2 linked regions of the Homo sapiens genome follow. The protein of the gene in region 1 purifies or fractionates together with the protein of each later gene. This does not show direct contact. Each region holds a gene or a part of one and is shown in the gene's direction. Other genes may lie near its edges. The genes, in order: ZNF25 and HEMGN.

Region 1 (3,829 bases):
CAGTTACTCCCTGCCATTAGAGTATGCAACTATAAAGTGTTTGTAAATCTGACTTATAACGTTTTTAAATGGCATCGCCTTCCTTTTATTAACAATAAAATACCTCAGTTATTTTGGCACCACTTTTAACTTCCCATTTTTTCTTTAAACTCTGAGCTCAGATTAAAAATCGGTATGCTGCTCATCAATTCTTTCATTTTGGAGTTGCTACTTCCTGCTATACAGTGTTTATCCTTCCCACAAAGCACTGCTTATCCTCCCTAAACTTATTTGGATAACACTAAGACAATCTCATCCTGCCTTCTTAAATGTTTGTCACGTATTTTCTAACTTGTGCACAGATGTGTTGCCAGTATCAGGAACAATGCCTAGTACATATTAGTTGCTCGCTAGATATTTGTTGAAAGAATGAATATTAATTAACAAGAGACTGGCTGGGAGTGGCGGCTCATGCCTGTAATCCCAGCACTTTGGGAGGCCAAAGTGGGTGGATCACTTGAGGCCCGAGTTCGAGACCAGCCTGGCCAACATGGTGAAACCCTGTCTCTACTAAAAATACAAAAATTAGCCGGGCTTGGTGGTGCACACCTGTAGTCCCAGCTATTCGGGAGGCTGAGGCTTAGGCATGAGAATTGCTTAAACCCAGGAAGCAGTGGTTACAGTGAGCCAAGATCGCCCCACTGCACTCCAGCCTGGACAACAGTGAGACTCATGTTCATGAAAAAAAGAAATAATAAATATATAAAATAATTAACAACAGACACTTTCTACTTTCTGCTCTGTTCCTTTTATTAACTCCTGTAGAAGCTCATCCATTCTTAAAGCCAATGCATTGGTTTTTATGATAAGGATTCCTAAAATTGACCTCTCCAGCATCTTTGCCCTATTTATATTCTGATCCCATATTTTTACCTTCTTGTAAGATAGTTCTGCTTATTCTACTTCCTTCCTTGTTAGGGTCAAAACAAAAATTGTTGATTTAAATTCCCACAGTAGTTGTGTAATGCAGCAGATGTACATTGCCAGAAGCCTGCATGGTATACTTAATACTGACTCAGTATTAAGTCCTTTAGACAAAATAAAAGTCTTACAAGGGTAAGGAGGTATTAGTAATATTCATTTAAATGAATTTTTTGTCAGGAACTAGTCTGGCCCTCTCTTGCCTATGCAACTTATTTCTCCTTGTGGCCCCCAAACACCTGTTAATCTCCATTTTACTATGCTCTTAAATGTTTTCCAAACATAAGATTTTTTTTTTTTTTATATGGAGTCTCACTCTGTTGCGCAGGCTGGCATGCAGTGGTGCGATCTCAGCTCACTGCAACCTCCACCTCCTGAGTTCAAGTGATTCTCCTGCCTCAGCCTCTTGAGTAGCTGGGATTACAGGTGCCCACAACCAGATCCAGCTAATTTTTGTATTTTTAGTAGAGGTGGGGTTTCACCATGTTGGTCAGGCTGGTCTCGAACTCCTGACCTCAGGTGATCCACCCACCTCAGCCTCTCAAAGTGCCGGGATTACAGGCATGAGCCACCGTTCCTGGCTTATACATATGATCTTATTTCATGTGTTCCTGAGTTAACGTCGCATAAGTCACTATGAAGTGACTTTTCTTATGTATTCCCCACCATTGCTATGAAATTCCAACCCCAAGCATCTGCTGATAATCTTTCACTTGCTTTCATGCATTTAAAGATGCATAAATATGAAGGTCACTAAAGATTCTAGAATGATGTTCAATAATTGGACCTTTAAAGATCCTGTAGTAAATTGGAAGCAGAGATGGAGGAAGCAAGATATGAAAATGAAATTCAAGACTAGTGTTGAGTCATGAGTAACAAGTGCGTTAGAAGTGCAGGATTTGATGGTCAGGATGAGTTCAGGATTGAAAATCTCTGGTGGTACAACTAGGAATTCATCCTTGTATAGATGGCTTATCCCAATGCTTTTAAGAAAATCCTTCCTTTTGGATATATGTGGTCCTCTGTCTTCCTGTCCTGAAAATAAAGCCAACTAGATGGAGAGTGAAAGCCCAAGCTACAGGACTCTTCCTCTAAGCATGAGGAAACTGATGTTCTGAAAAAGTCACTTTAGTAATTGACACCTAGATTGCTGTGGATGGATGAAGAGGAAATAAAGTAGAAGTTTGTCTGCTAAATGCTAGGAATCCTAGCACAGTAATCTAGGTTTGAGGGAATAAAGACCTATACTTCAGCTCCTTCTTTCAGTTTAATCTTTTCCATGTATTCCAGGGGACACTGTTGTCCAGTAGTTTTTCTTAACTTGCTTACTGTTCATGGTCCTTAAGGGGCTCACAGTATTCTCTATACTTCCCACACTCCCGTTCAGCAACACTTCGAATGTCCTATGTTCTCCTCTCCCGGTTCTTTTTTTGTCTTTAACTTTCACCTCCAAACTCTTATGGTCACATTTGTAAAAATGTCAGAGTACATGGGTCTACAAGTAGAATCCTCCTTCTGTGTGTGACAGCAGTTTTCAGTGTTTGTTTTAGGTTTTTTTCCCAAAACAATGGGCTAGAGGAAATTTGCATTTGAGGTTCTTTCATTATGAGAAATTGGCCTGAAGCCTAAGAATCAATGCTATGACAATATTAATGTGTAGTATTTATAAAGTATTACATTTTTGGTTCCCTTGTAGAAGACCTATGGAGCATTCATGATCTAGAAGCAAGATACCAGGAAAGCCAAGCTGGAAATTCAAGGCAAGTTCAAGAATTAATGTTTAAGATAGAAGATTTGTAAGCAAGAGTCTTAAAGGAGTTACTAGAAATGGGAGGGCACTAGTTAATACTAAACGTGAGAAAACTAACACTGCAGAGCAAATCCCAAGGAATATAATCCAAATGGGACTGCCCCTTTTCATAGAGACCTTGTGCAGGATCGGGAGATTGAAACTTTGAAGTGGTCTTTTTACTCTTCTGAATTAAGTAATGAAAGGGAGTCTCTATTACACAAAATAGAATGCAGGCAATTGAGAGACCCTGTGAATAGAATGCAAATGCAGATTCACCTTACCAAATGTTAAACTACAGTGCAGGTCAGAGAATGCTCACAGTGGAGAAACCCTATGGATCCAGTAAATATGGGAACATCTCTAGAAATCGGTCCTCAGAGGTACTTGGAAAATACGCCCAGTGGAGCAGGGGGAACAAAAAGCCTTAAAAGTCTTACACATTAATGAATGTGGAACTTTCTGTCTAGGAATGGAGAACTCACAAAACATCAGAAAACTCATACCACAGAGAAAGCCTGTGAATGTAAGGAATGTGGGAAGTTCTTCTGCCAGAAGTCTGCCCTCATAGTACATCAGCATACTCACTCAAAGGGCAAATCCTATGACTGTGATAAATGTGGGAAATCTTTCTCTAAAAATGAAGACCTCATAAGACATCAGAAAATTCACACGAGAGATAAAACCTATGAGTGTAAAGAATGTAAGAAAATATTTTACCACCTATCATCTCTCAGTAGACATCTGAGAACCCATGCAGGAGAGAAACCCTATGAATGTAATCAGTGTGAAAAATCCTTCTACCAGAAACCACATCTCACAGAACATCAGAAAACACACACAGGGGAGAAACCTTTTGAATGTACTGAATGTGGGAAGTTCTTCTATGTGAAGGCATACCTCATGGTACATCAGAAAACACACACAGGGGAGAAACCCTATGAGTGTAAGGAGTGTGGGAAAGCCTTTTCCCAGAAGTCACACCTCACAGTACATCAGAGAATGCACACAGGGGAGAAACCCTATAAATGTAAGGAATGTGGGAAATTCTTCTCTAGGAATTCACACCTCAAAACTCAT
Region 2 (3,829 bases), on another chromosome or scaffold:
TTGATATATACTGTAGCAACTTAGAATTCTTTACACAAAATAATGTATTTGATAATCAAGCCATATACAGCATCCACCTGCAGGCTGCACAGACGAGGAGCTGTGCCAGGTCTAGAAACTCGATTTGTATGAGTTTACTCAGGGGTAGGGAAGTAACACACAAAGACTAAATGCAAAGAGACTAGTGTATAAACCAGAATGCCACTCTATTAATTTGTAATGAGAATTATTTATTTTCCATAACAAAACTTTAAGAATATGCTATAACACACGCACGCACGCATACGCGCATGCACTACCCTCACCAAGAAGGCTCCTGGTAAGCATGGTATCAATGCCACGAAGTCCTGGAGAAACATTCCCTCTCCTAAGAATTGAGAACATCTAGAGCTGCTCCTTCATTTTACAAACAAGGAGATTGAGGCCCAGAGAGATTAAGTGACTAGTTCATGATACTTGTGCAATGAGGCAGTGGGGGACCTGGCACTGTTATTACAAGCATTTATTTGAATTCTGTAGTACCACTGCTGACACTAATTCTGTTCTTTCTGCAGAGAACAGAAAAAACGCAAGCAGCAGAGAACAGGAAAAGGAAATCGAAGAGGCAGAAAGAGACAACAAAACACAGAATTGAAGGTGGAGCCTCAGCCACAGATAGAAAAGGAAATAGTGGAGAAAGCACTGGCACCTATAGAGAAAAAAACTGAGCCACCTGGGAGCATAACCAAAGTATTTCCTTCAGTAGCCTCCCCGCAAAAAGTTGTGCCTGAGGAACACTTTTCTGAAATATGTCAAGAAAGTAACATATATCAGGAGAATTTTTCTGAGTACCAAGAAATAGCAGTACAAAACCATTCTTCTGAAACATGCCAACATGTGTCTGAACCTGAAGACCTCTCTCCTAAAATGTACCAAGAAATATCTGTACTTCAAGACAATTCTTCCAAAATATGCCAAGACATGAAGGAACCTGAAGACAACTCTCCTAACACATGCCAAGTAATATCTGTAATTCAAGACCATCCTTTCAAAATGTACCAAGATATGGCTAAACGAGAAGATCTGGCTCCTAAAATGTGCCAAGAAGCTGCTGTACCCAAAATCCTTCCTTGTCCAACATCTGAAGACACAGCTGATCTGGCAGGATGCTCTCTTCAAGCATATCCAAAACCAGATGTGCCTAAAGGCTATATTCTTGACACAGACCAAAATCCAGCAGAACCAGAGGAATACAATGAAACAGATCAAGGAATAGCTGAGACAGAAGGCCTTTTTCCTAAAATACAAGAAATAGCTGAGCCTAAAGACCTTTCTACAAAAACACACCAAGAATCAGCTGAACCTAAATACCTTCCTCATAAAACATGTAACGAAATTATTGTGCCTAAAGCCCCCTCTCATAAAACAATCCAAGAAACACCTCATTCTGAAGACTATTCAATTGAAATAAACCAAGAAACTCCTGGGTCTGAAAAATATTCACCTGAAACGTATCAAGAAATACCTGGGCTTGAAGAATATTCACCTGAAATATACCAAGAAACATCCCAGCTTGAAGAATATTCACCTGAAATATACCAAGAAACACCGGGGCCTGAAGACCTCTCTACTGAGACATATAAAAATAAGGATGTGCCTAAAGAATGCTTTCCAGAACCACACCAAGAAACAGGTGGGCCCCAAGGCCAGGATCCTAAAGCACACCAGGAAGATGCTAAAGATGCTTATACTTTTCCTCAAGGTAAGGGCTGTTTATAGCACCAAGGTAGGTACATCTCCCCCAGAGTAGTGATTTACAACTTTCTCTGACAATCCTGGGTATTCCCTGTTATTTCAATGGATACTGTGAATTTCATTGACTAGTTTTAAGTGAACAATATTTTCATGCAACCAACGTCTGTCTTGGCATATTTCAAAGAGTTAAAAAAATTGAAAATGCAAGCATGTACATTAAGTACTTATTCATACTATCCATCCATTATGAGATGCTATAGTCAGTGAAATGAACCCAATATAGGATGAATTATTGCAAAATATTTTTAAAAATTAAGTCTACATTAACAAGAAAGCTTGATGAATGAAGTTTTTCTAGGAAATTTAATTTGCCTGATAAATGGAAAGCAGGTAAATTCATAGTACGAAGTACTGAGGGAGATAAAAGCTGTAAAATATAATCCTGTTACTAGGGAATTCATTCTTGTAGGATTTATCAGGTTTACCAAAAACCCTTTCTATTTCAAGATTTGTTCCTGAAAAACTTTTTCCTAAGTATAGGAATTTGAAAATAATGCAACCTTTCTTTAATTTCACTTGCCTCAGAGACATAACTGAGAACTTCAGCTCTCTTTGTACAATACTGTAGACAGTATAAGAAATGGACTGAGTCTATCAGACCATAGTTATCCCCAGGAAACTGATTTCTAAAGAAATCCCTTTAGTAGTTTACTTGCTCTTTATCCTAAAAGATGAGTGCAACAAAAACATGGTGCTAGTTGGTTTCCAAGTAATACCAGTTTTGAAGAACTACTTTAAAGAAATACATTGCAGCAAAAGCAGGCATGTGAAGCAGTACGTGCACTGACAGGAGTACCCTGCTGGAGAAGCAGCTCTAACCAACACAGCGTCCTGATTCCTAACTGCTTCATTCTAAACCCAGCAAGGTCGATATGGTCAATTAATTAACGCTTATTTTATTTTTGGCTTTGTTTGACCAAATAAATGGGAATATCTATTTTTCCTGATTATAAAAGTAGTAAGTGTTCATTATAATAAAGCAATATGTAAGTGAATATCAAGTAAAGTAAAAGTCCCCTATAATACCATCTTCTATCTTCAGTTCCCAATGTTAAGGTTGTTTTGTTTCAACAAATGAGACAGTACCCATCCTATCCTGTAACTTGTTTTTGTTTTCATTTACAATATGTATTGCAGCCATCTTTATGATGTCTTTTGTAACAACTGCATAGTACTGTGCTATATGTATATTCAACCAGTCTCTATAAGGATGAACACTTAGGTTACTGCCAAGTTTTACTATTACAACAATGTTCAATGAACATCATTGGGAATAACATTTATTTAGTTAACATTTATCTGGTACTTTTCTATGTGCCAGACACCATATTAAATATTTTATGTGGTTTATTTTATTCAATGTTAAAAGCTCTACTGGATAAATAATACTCCCATTCTAAATATAAGGAAATGGAGGCACTGGAGGCTGAAGTTTGTCTGATTATTTCCTTTGAATCAACCCCTAGAAATCAAATTGTTGGGCCAAACGGTACCCAAATTTAAAGTTTGAATATACAGTCAGTCAGACTAGCCTCCAGAAATGTGGTAGCAATTCACACGAGACAGGTGCCTTTTCCCCACACCCTTGTCAGCACTGTACATTATGACATTTTAAAAATCCTTGTCTGTCTGCTAGGTTAAAAAATACACTTGATCGGCCGGGCGCGGTGGCTCACGCCTGTAATCCCAGCACGTTGGGAGGCCGAGGTGGGCGGATCACGAGGTCAGGAGATCGAGACCATTCTGGCTAACACGATGAAACCCCGTCTCTACTAAAATTACAAAAAATTAGCCGGGCGCGGTGGCGGGCGCCTGTAGTCCCAGCTACTCGGGAGGCTGAAGCAGGAGAATGGCGTGAACCCGGGAGGCGGAGCTTGCAGTGAGCAGAGATCGCGCCACTGCACTCCAGCCTGGGCGACAGAGCGAGACTCCGGCTCAAAAAAAAAAAAAAAAAAATACACTTGATCTTAGCCAAAAGGCTGAGAAGTGATAGGTTAAAAAATAAAACACACCTAATGGTCTTAATCACCCCCTT

What was found.
Region 2: the proteins of ZNF25 (region 1) and HEMGN purify together in Homo sapiens (co-immunoprecipitation; one study listed by IntAct). This does not show direct contact.

The regions. Positions count from the first base shown.
Region 1 is NC_000010.11:37,952,586-37,956,414, reverse strand, and holds part of ZNF25 (zinc finger protein 25), read left to right. Parts: intron 1-2,656; coding exon 2,657-2,720; intron 2,721-3,219; coding exon 3,220-3,829. UniProt on the Homo sapiens protein: May be involved in transcriptional regulation.
Region 2 is NC_000009.12:97,927,947-97,931,775, reverse strand, and holds part of HEMGN (hemogen), read left to right. Parts: intron 1-554; coding exon 555-1,741; intron 1,742-3,829. UniProt on the Homo sapiens protein: Regulates the proliferation and differentiation of hematopoietic cells. Overexpression block the TPA-induced megakaryocytic differentiation in the K562 cell model. May also prevent cell apoptosis through the activation of the nuclear factor-kappa B (NF-kB).